2 linked regions of the Homo sapiens genome follow. The protein of the gene in region 2 interacts with the protein of the main gene of each other region in a pairwise test. Each region holds a gene or a part of one and is shown on either strand. Other genes may lie near its edges.

Evidence for each region.
Region 1: the proteins of NCK1 (region 2) and BICRA interact in binary tests that used the Homo sapiens proteins (3 or more experiments, as listed by UniProt).

The regions. Positions count from the first base shown.
Region 1 is NC_000019.10:47,677,646-47,682,133, forward strand, and holds part of BICRA (BRD4-interacting chromatin-remodeling complex-associated protein), read left to right. Parts: intron 1-1,675; coding exon 1,676-3,631; intron 3,632-4,330; coding exon 4,331-4,488. UniProt on the Homo sapiens protein: Component of SWI/SNF chromatin remodeling subcomplex GBAF that carries out key enzymatic activities, changing chromatin structure by altering DNA-histone contacts within a nucleosome in an ATP-dependent manner.
Region 2 is NC_000003.12:136,923,904-136,929,381, forward strand, and holds part of NCK1 (SH2/SH3 adapter protein NCK1), read left to right. Parts: intron 1-4,080; 5' UTR 4,081-4,098; coding exon 4,099-4,324; intron 4,325-5,478. UniProt on the Homo sapiens protein: Adapter protein which associates with tyrosine-phosphorylated growth factor receptors, such as KDR and PDGFRB, or their cellular substrates. Maintains low levels of EIF2S1 phosphorylation by promoting its dephosphorylation by PP1.

The sequences.
Region 1 (4,488 bases), on a different chromosome or scaffold from region 2:
GATCACACCATTGCACTCCAGCCTGGGCAACAAGAGTGGAAACTCCGTCTCAAAAAAAACCCAAAGAAACAAAAAGCATTGAACTCACAGTGCGGTTGGCACAGAAGTTCACAAATGGGAGCCACTGCTGATGTGAGCTTTACTCCACCAGAACTACGACTGCTTGTCAGAAACCTTTAGGGCCAGGTGTGTTTCAGAATTTCGAATTTCTCCAATTCTGGAAAAGTGGTGCCATATGTGTGGTGTGTGTCATGTCACACGCTTGCCTTTCGGCGGCCAAACTTGGGATGTCACATCATGTGGATAAATGGATCCCACCTAAAGTGCCATGTTGGTTCTGGTCAGGTTTTGCTGCCAACAGAGCTATGAAAACAGTCTCAGTTCTTAGAGCTTTTTGGGTTTTGTAATTACAGATAAGTGTTGTGGGCCTATATCACTATTTAAACAATAGTTGCTTATTTTTATTTATTTTTGTTTTGTTTTGTTTTGAGATGGAGTCTCACTCTGTCACCCAGGCTGGAGGGCATTGGTAGGATCTCAGCTCATTACAGCCTCCACCTCCCAGGTTCAAGCCATTCTCCTGCCTCAGCCTCCCGAGTAGCTGGGACTGCAGGCACGTGCCACCACGCCTGGCTAATTTTCGTATTTTTAGTAGAGATGGTGTTTCACCATGTTGGTCAGGCAGGTCTCAAACTCCTAGGCTCAAGTGATCCACCTGCCTCTGCCTCCCAAAGTGCTGGGATTACAGGTGTGAGCCACCGTGCCTAGACTTTATTTTTGTTTTTTGGGCGTCAGCTGGTAGAGATTGGGGGACAGCACCCCCGCGGGCTTGGGCTGGATGGGCATGGGCGTGCGATGCAGGATCACGTTGGGCGCCGGGACCAGTGGTGACAAGCTGAGGCCTGGGGCCACCACCAGCGGCTTTCCTGAGGGTGCCCCGCTGGGTCTTACTCTTGTCACTTAGGCTGGAGTACAGTGACACAATCATAGCTCACCGTAGCCTGGAACTCCTGGGCTTAAGAGATCCTCTCACCTCAGGCTCCCAAAGTGCTAAGATTACAGGCGTGAGTCACTGTGGCCTTGAACAGTAGTTTTTTTTATTACATTTTACTGATGGGTACAGATGAAGAAACTGAGGTCAGATCAAGCACGCCCTAGGTTACACAGCTAAGCCTTGGCAGAGCTGGGATTTGATCCCGGGTCCAGCCACTTGCAGGTGGAATGTTCTTTTTTCTTTTTTTTTTCTTTTTTTCTTCTTTTTTTTTTTTTCTTCTCAAAGTCTTGCCCTGTCACCGAGGCTGGAGTGTAGTGAAGTGCTCGTAGCTCCACTCTGCAGCCTCAAACTCCTGGGCTCCAGTGATCCTCTCACCTCAGCCTCCCAAGTAGCTAAGACCACAGGCACATGCTGCCACCCCTGACTAATTTTTCTTTTTTAAAATTTTTTTCTCACTGCGTTGCCCAGGCTGGTCTCAAACTCTTTGGCTCAAGCCATCCATCCTCCTACCTCAGCCTCCCAAAGTGCTGAGATTACAAGCGTGAACCACCATGCCAGGAGGGAATGTTCTTTCTTGAACGTGGCTGCCCTGTCACCTCAGCATTCTTTGCGGCAGCTGTGGCCTAAGCGTAGCCCCTTGCTAACCTCAGCTCTTTCCTTCCCACCTTTCCCGGCCTGCAGCTCCATGTGCAAGAAGCTTCCGGCAACCACCTGAACCCAGAGCCCAACCAGCCGGCCCCCAGTGTGGACCTAGACTTCCTGGAAGATGACATCCTGGGCTCTCCTGCGACAGGGGGCGGCGGCGGGGGCAGTGGGGGCGCTGACCAGCCCTGTGACATCCTCCAGCAGAGCCTCCAAGAGGCCAACATCACGGAGCAGACGCTGGAGGCCGAGGCTGAGCTGGACCTGGGTCCCTTCCAGCTGCCCACCCTGCAGCCTGCGGATGGCGGGGCAGGCCCGACGGGCGCTGGAGGGGCAGCGGCCGTGGCTGCGGGGCCCCAAGCCCTCTTCCCAGGCAGCACCGACCTGCTGGGGCTGCAGGGCCCGCCTACCGTGCTGACCCACCAGGCCCTGGTGCCGCCCCAGGACGTGGTCAACAAGGCCCTGAGTGTGCAGCCCTTCCTGCAGCCTGTGGGCCTGGGCAATGTGACACTGCAGCCCATCCCGGGCCTCCAAGGCCTGCCCAATGGCAGCCCTGGGGGTGCCACGGCGGCCACACTGGGCCTGGCGCCCATCCAGGTGGTGGGCCAGCCCGTCATGGCGCTCAACACGCCCACCTCCCAGCTCCTGGCCAAGCAGGTGCCCGTCAGCGGCTACCTGGCCTCGGCGGCTGGCCCCTCGGAGCCCGTGACGCTGGCGTCGGCCGGTGTCTCGCCACAGGGGGCTGGCCTGGTCATCCAGAAGAACCTCTCGGCCGCTGTGGCCACCACGCTCAATGGGAACTCTGTGTTCGGAGGCGCGGGGGCCGCCTCGGCTCCCACCGGGACGCCCTCGGGACAGCCGCTGGCGGTGGCCCCAGGCCTCGGCTCGTCGCCACTGGTCCCGGCGCCCAACGTGATCCTGCATCGCACACCCACGCCCATCCAGCCCAAGCCCGCGGGGGTGCTGCCGCCCAAGCTCTACCAGCTGACGCCCAAGCCGTTTGCGCCCGCGGGCGCCACGCTCACCATCCAGGGCGAGCCGGGGGCGCTCCCGCAGCAGCCCAAGGCCCCGCAGAACCTGACGTTCATGGCGGCGGGGAAGGCGGGCCAGAACGTGGTGCTGTCGGGCTTCCCCGCGCCTGCGCTGCAAGCGAACGTCTTCAAGCAGCCACCGGCCACCACCACCGGAGCGGCCCCGCCGCAGCCCCCCGGGGCCCTGAGCAAACCCATGAGCGTCCACCTCCTGAACCAAGGCAGCAGCATCGTCATCCCCGCCCAGCACATGCTGCCGGGCCAGAACCAGTTCCTACTGCCTGGCGCCCCGGCGGTCCAGCTCCCGCAGCAGCTCTCAGCCCTGCCGGCCAACGTGGGCGGGCAGATCCTGGCGGCCGCTGCCCCCCACACAGGTGGACAGCTCATCGCGAACCCCATCCTCACAAACCAGAACCTGGCGGGCCCACTGAGCCTGGGCCCCGTGTTGGCCCCCCACTCCGGGGCCCACAGCGCGCACATCCTCTCCGCCGCTCCCATCCAGGTGGGCCAGCCTGCGCTCTTCCAGATGCCCGTGTCGCTGGCGGCGGGCAGCCTGCCCACGCAGAGCCAGCCAGCGCCCGCCGGGCCGGCCGCCACCACTGTCCTCCAGGGGGTCACCCTGCCCCCCAGCGCCGTGGCCATGCTCAACACCCCCGACGGCCTGGTGCAGCCGGCCACCCCTGCCGCTGCCACCGGGGAGGCCGCGCCTGTCCTCACGGTGCAGCCTGCCCCCCAGGCGCCCCCCGCGGTCAGCACACCCCTGCCCCTGGGCCTCCAGCAGCCGCAGGCGCAGCAGCCCCCGCAGGCCCCCACCCCACAGGCCGCCGCCCCGCCTCAGGCCACCACCCCCCAGCCCAGCCCTGGCCTGGCGTCTAGCCCGGAGAAGATCGTCCTGGGGCAGCCGCCCTCTGCCACCCCCACGGCCATCCTCACTCAGGACTCCCTGCAGATGTTCCTGCCCCAGGTAAGCAGGGCGGGGCAAGGGAGCAGGTACCGGAGGAGGCGGGTTTGGGAGGAAGAGGGGTCCTGGGGCGAGGCGCCAAGATCCAAAAGTGGATGCCACTGTGGCAGCTGGGGGGGGAAGGTCTCAGTCATGGCACAGGTGGCCCCTAAGAGGAGGCCCGAAGGGTGAGGGCCCTGGCTGAACTGGCAGGAAGATGGATTGGCAGGTTGGCTGACTGATAGACAAGGGGCAGGACAACTGTTAGGCAGTGAGAGGGACTGGCAGACAGACAGACAAAGAGAGGGACCAGTGAACAGACAGAAGGGTAGGCACTGGCTGGGCTGCTGACAGATGGAGAGGAGAGGGACCGGCAGGGAGAGGGACTACCCGACGGACAGAGAAGGGCAGGCACTGGCTGGCCTGCTGACAGACAAGGAGAGGAATCTCAGAGAGAAAGTGGACGAGACAGGGACAGAGGGACAGGCAGGTGGGGCAGGAGAGAGGCAGGGCAACGTGGAGCTGGCAGAGGGGCCAATGGGAGCTCAGAATGGAGCAGGCTGCCTGGGTTTCGGCCTCTGTGCCTGGCACCCTGCCTGCCAGGCTGCCCACTACCCCATTCTCTGGAACCCTGGGAGCGTCAATAGGGGCAGGGGTCTCGGGTGGGGAGGTCGAGGGCCTGTGGGGGCGGCTTTCTGATCCTGTGCGGGCTGCCCGTTGCAGGAGAGGAGCCAGCAGCCCCTCTCCGCAGAGGGCCCCCACCTCTCCGTGCCTGCCTCGGTCATAGTCAGCGCCCCGCCTCCCGCCCAAGACCCAGCCCCAGCCACCCCCGTCGCCAAAGGAGCTGGCCTCGGCCCTCAGGCCCCCGACAGCCAGGCTTC
Region 2 (5,478 bases):
AACCACACAGAAGTATATATTCTACCTTTTCTGTAAGGTTTTATGTTTTAGGGTAATAGAACAATAAGCAAAATTTTCCTTTGAGAATAATCACAGTTTCTGAAAGCAGGTAGAGCTAGCACATCATCATTATTGAAATAGTTGATCTAGGCAGTGATCATCAGTGGCAGGTAAAACCATTGGGTAGAGGTTTGATGGGGGAACTTTATAATAATGGATAAATCAGTTCAGTGCTACAAATCTACCATTCAGTCTTAACATCACAGAAAATGGTTCAGGCAGACATAATGTGCCTCCTAATAAATGGCAATAACAAGTACACAAGAATACTTAACGAATTATTCTTGCAACAATGACAAAACAACCTAGAAAAAGTAAAGCCTCTAGAAATAATTACCAGTTTATAGGAGATAGGGGGGATAGAGGAACACCATGAAAATATACACTAGCCAAATTCACGATGTGGGAAATGCTACAGGACAAGTGAAGCCAGCTTCTTAAATAAATGACATAGAGTGGGGAAAGAGAACAGTGTCAGAGACTTAAAACATGTTAGCTTAAGTGCAATATATCGACTTAGTTTGGATCCCAGTTCACACCAACTGTAAGAATGTTTAAAAAAATACACTTAGCAAAAATTGAATATTAGCATTAGATGAAATAAGTGTTGCAGGAGTTCTTAATAAAGGAACACCTTTTCAAAATGAGCTTTTGAAAATATACTGATAATTTAATTTTAGTATAATTGACTTGTTTGCAATCTTATATATTTTTATGCATCAGAAACATTGTGAGTAGAGGTTCTATGTTTCACCACACTGCCATTAGGCAGGAGGAGGGGAGGTCCATGGCTTAACCCATTTGTGCCTAGTGTTCCATTATTGGAACGCTAAGCTTGTGAGAGTTATTTATATCATGCTCAAGGTCGTCACCAAGGTCTGATTTTTCACACAAGAAATTGCAACCTCCGGCATATATGGGTTAAAAAAGGGAAAAGGTCAGGAGCCCTTGATTTGTTCATTTTTGAGGGGTATGGGTTTTTAATCTGTTAGTGCTTAATGAAATCATGGGATTCCAGTTCCCCCACCAAAAATTAGGGGGATAGCTGAACCACAAGGCATAATATTGATAAAATTGGGTGATAGGTATAGGATTCATTATACTATTCTCTTCTGTAAATGTTGAAAAGTGCCATAATTATAAAACTTAAAAGCATTATATAAATTTTTAGTTATTATACCAGTAATGTAGTAGAATGCTATTTTTGTACATTCTGGGGAGGACTAGATAATATTGGTAATACTTTTGTCACCCTGATAGGTAAAGTGTGGTATTTCAGTTTAGTTTTCATTTCTTTAATTATAAAGATATTCAGGATCTTTTGAATACTTTTTGACTATTTGTGTTTTCTCTTTCAGTTTTTATTTTAATTAAACTTTTTATTTTGAGATCATTATAGATCCACATGCAATTCTGAGAAACTTTAGAACTTATTGCGAGATCCAGTGTATGCTTTCCTCCAGTGGCAATACATCTGGCAGAAGTATAGTACAATATCACAATAATATTACAAAATTTCTTCATATTGCCCTTTTATAGTCATACTTACTTCCCTCCTGTTCCTGCTGCCCCGTTAACCCTGGCAACTACTAATCTGTTTCTAATTTCCATATTTTGTCATTTTGAGAGTGTTATATAAATGGAGTCATATAGTTAACCTTTGAGATTGGCTTTTTTCACTGAGCAGTTATAATTCCCTGGAGATTCATCCAGGTCGTTTTGTGCATCAATTGTTCTTTTTGGTATGAACGTACCAGTTTGTTTAATTATTTGCCTGTTGAAGGACATCTGGGTGGTTTCCGGTTTTTGACTGTTAGAAATAAAGTTGCTGTTAACATTCATGTAAAATGTGAACATAAATTTTCATTTCTCTGGGATAAATACCCAGGGGTGCAGTTGCTAGCTTGTATGGTAGTTGCATGTTTAGTTTTATGAGAAACTGTCAGACAATTTTGCGGAGTATCTGTACCATTTTACATTCTCATCAGCAGTATACGTGTGATCCAATTTCAACTTACCCTTGTCAGCATTTGGTATTACCACTCTTAGCCATTCTGACAAGCGTATGTAGTGACATCTCAGTGTGGTTTTAATTTGCATTTCTTTAATAGCTAATGATGAATACCTTTTCATCTGCTTATTTGCCATCTGTAAATCTTCAGTGAATGCCTCTTCATGTTTTTTTGCTCATTTTCTAGTTGGATTTGTTTTTCTAATGTTTCTTTAACTTTTCTAACTGCTTAAGATAGATACTCAGTTCATTAATTTATTTTTAGCTCTTTTTAAAATTTTATTTTAAATTTTATTATTATTATTATTATTATTTTTTGATACAGAGTCTCGCTCTGCGGCCCAGGCTGGAGTGCAGTGGCGCGATCTCGGCTCACTGCAAGCCCCGCCTCCCGGGTTCAAGCCATTCTCCTGCCTCAGCGTCCCAAGTAGCTGGGACTACAGGCACCCGCCACCACGCCTGTCTAATTTTTTTGTATTTTTAGTAGAGACAGGGTTTTACCGTGTTAGCCAGGATGGTCTCGATCTCCTGAACTTGTGATTCACCCGCCTCAGCCTCCTGAAGTGCTGGGATTACAGGCATGAGCCACCGCGCCCGGCCACTCTTTTTGTTTTTTAATGTTACTATTTAAAACTAAAAATCTGTCTATATACACTCCTCTTGCTACATCCCACAGAGTTCGATGTATAGTTTTTAAAATTATTTACTTCTAAGTATTTTCAAAATTCAATATGATTTCTTCTTAGATTCATTAGTTTTTAGAAGTTTCCAAACGTGGTATTTCAAAAGTTATCTTTTTGTTATGGTTGTTGGAGAATATGGTTGTAGGATATCAGTTACGTGAACATTGAGACATTCTTTATGGCCTGGCATTTGATTGCTTTTTGTATGTGTTTCATTTGTTTTCTATTTGGAAGCAATATTCTGTATATGTCTATTAAATCAGACTTGCTGGTTGTGATATGAGTTCTTCTCTAGCCTTAATAATGTTTGTATTTATTTATTTATTTTTTTGAGACCAAGTCTGGCTGTGTCACCCAGGCCTGGAGTGCAGTGGCACGATCTTGGCTAACTGCAACCTCCGCCTCCCAGGTTCAAGGGATTCTCCTGCCTCAGCCTCCTGAGTAGCTGGGATTCCAAGTGTGCGCCACCATACCTAGCTAATTTTTGTATTTTTAGTAGAGATGGGGTTTCACCATGTTGGCCAGGCTGGTCTTGCATTCCTGACCTCAGGTGATCCACCAGCCTCGGCCTCCCGAAGTGCTGGGATTACAGGTGTGTGCCACCAGGCCTGGCCGTTTTTATTTCTTTGTTTTGTTACTCTGATAATATGTTAAAAATTGTCCTCTGTGGTAATGGGTTTGTCAAGATCTCCTTGTGGTTCTGTCAACATATTTTGAAACTATCTTGTTACTAGGTACATAGAAGTTTAGATATTGTAATTGAGTAGAACATTTTTCATTGGGTAGTGAACTTTATTGCTAGTAATGGTTTTTGCCCTTTAAGTTTTGTTTGATACTAATAGAGCAACACCAGTCTCTTTATTGATTGGTTGATTGATTGATTGAGACAGATTCTCCCTCTGTCGCCAGGCTGGAGTGCAGTGGTGCGATATCGGCTCACTGCAACCTTCGCCTCCCAGGTTCAAGCTATTCCCATGCCTCAGCCTCCTGAGTAGCTGGGACTACGGGTGTGCACCATCACGCCCAGCTAATTTTTGTATTTTAGTACAGATGGGGTTTCACCATGTTGGCCAAGCTGGTCTCGAACTCAACCTCAAGTGATCTGCCTGCCTTGGCCTCCCAAAGTGCTGGGATTACAGGCATGAGCCACTGCGCACGGCCATACAGTCACAGTCTCTTTAAATTACTATTTGCCTCATGTATTTTTTTCCATATTTTTTACTTTTCATCTTTATGTCTTTAGATTTTTAGGTGTGTCTCTTTTGAAAAGCATGTGAACTAATACTACCTCAACCTTACATAAAAATATTTTCCATGTGTTTACAGTGCTGAAGCTGCTGAAAGATGGCAGAAGAAGTGGTGGTAGTAGCCAAATTTGATTATGTGGCCCAACAAGAACAAGAGTTGGACATCAAGAAGAATGAGAGATTATGGCTTCTGGATGATTCTAAGTCCTGGTGGCGAGTTCGAAATTCCATGAATAAAACAGGTTTTGTGCCTTCTAACTATGTGGAAAGGAAAAACAGTGCTCGGAAAGCATCTATTGTGAAAAACCTAAAGGATACCTTAGGTAAGATATTTTTTAAAAGAAAAGCAACTTTGTTTTAAATGAAACCTGCAACTTAGTTCTTTGTACATAATTCTGGCAGCAGTGTGCATAATTGACTTGAAAAGGCAAGGGCTAGGTAAGTTTGAGTCATAGCAGGTGGTCAACCCAGAAGACCAGTGAAGGTCATAAGTGTTAACATGCAGTTTCTGTAAATCTAGGCCCATGCTCCAAGTCAAGGCAGAGTGATACCAATGAGTAGAACTAACTCTCACCTTCTAGCAGGGGCTTTTTGAACCATGAATCACTGTTGGAGTTTAGACTTATAGGCAGAATTGCCTCTTTGGCACCAAGGCAACTTATGTACATGGCACATAATGAATTTTAACATCTAATGACCTTATGTTTTGAACTTCACTTAAAACCCTCCATTTTGTTTTTCTATTTGATAAGAGAACTGTGGATCATTACTGTACATTAGCACCTACAGAGCTCTTTTCTATTTTGTTTCTCTTTTTCCCTTTATTTCTCCAAAGTTTTTGTTTTTTATTTTTACTGGCCCTCCATTAGGGCCTGAGACAGTGGAGCCCACTTCACACTGGACTTGGCTAAGCTGATAGGAAGGAAATATGCATGGGCAAGGAATGGCCTCTTCTTTAAAAAAAAAAAAAAAAAAAAAAAATTAAACTCTCCTTAGCTGACAGGAAGGAATTGGGAGGGACAGAATTTCATTTTTGGTGTTCAGGCAAACATGCTATTTGCGTAATTGTTCTTTGTCTAGGTGTAGAAGAAAAGTACAATTTCTCCTTGTGCAGACAGTTTGGGAGCAATATAGCATGACTGACAAATATGAAATACTGTTGACTCACTACTTTACATTAGTTTTTATTTATTTATTTTTTATGGTTTTGTAGAGATGGAGTCTTGCTCTGTTGTCCAGGCCAAACTTGAACTCCTGGGCTCAAGCAACCCTCCCACCTCAGCTTCCTGAGTAGCTGGGACTACAGATGCTTACTACCATACCCAGCTTAGTTTTTATTCTTATTCAACATTATTGTTATTCTAGAATGTTCTTCTAATTATCAATAAAATACAAATATTTAATGTTTTTAACCATTGTAAAACTGCAAAAACTAAAATATAGTACAATTTGGAGTAAGATATAAAGTAGTGGATTA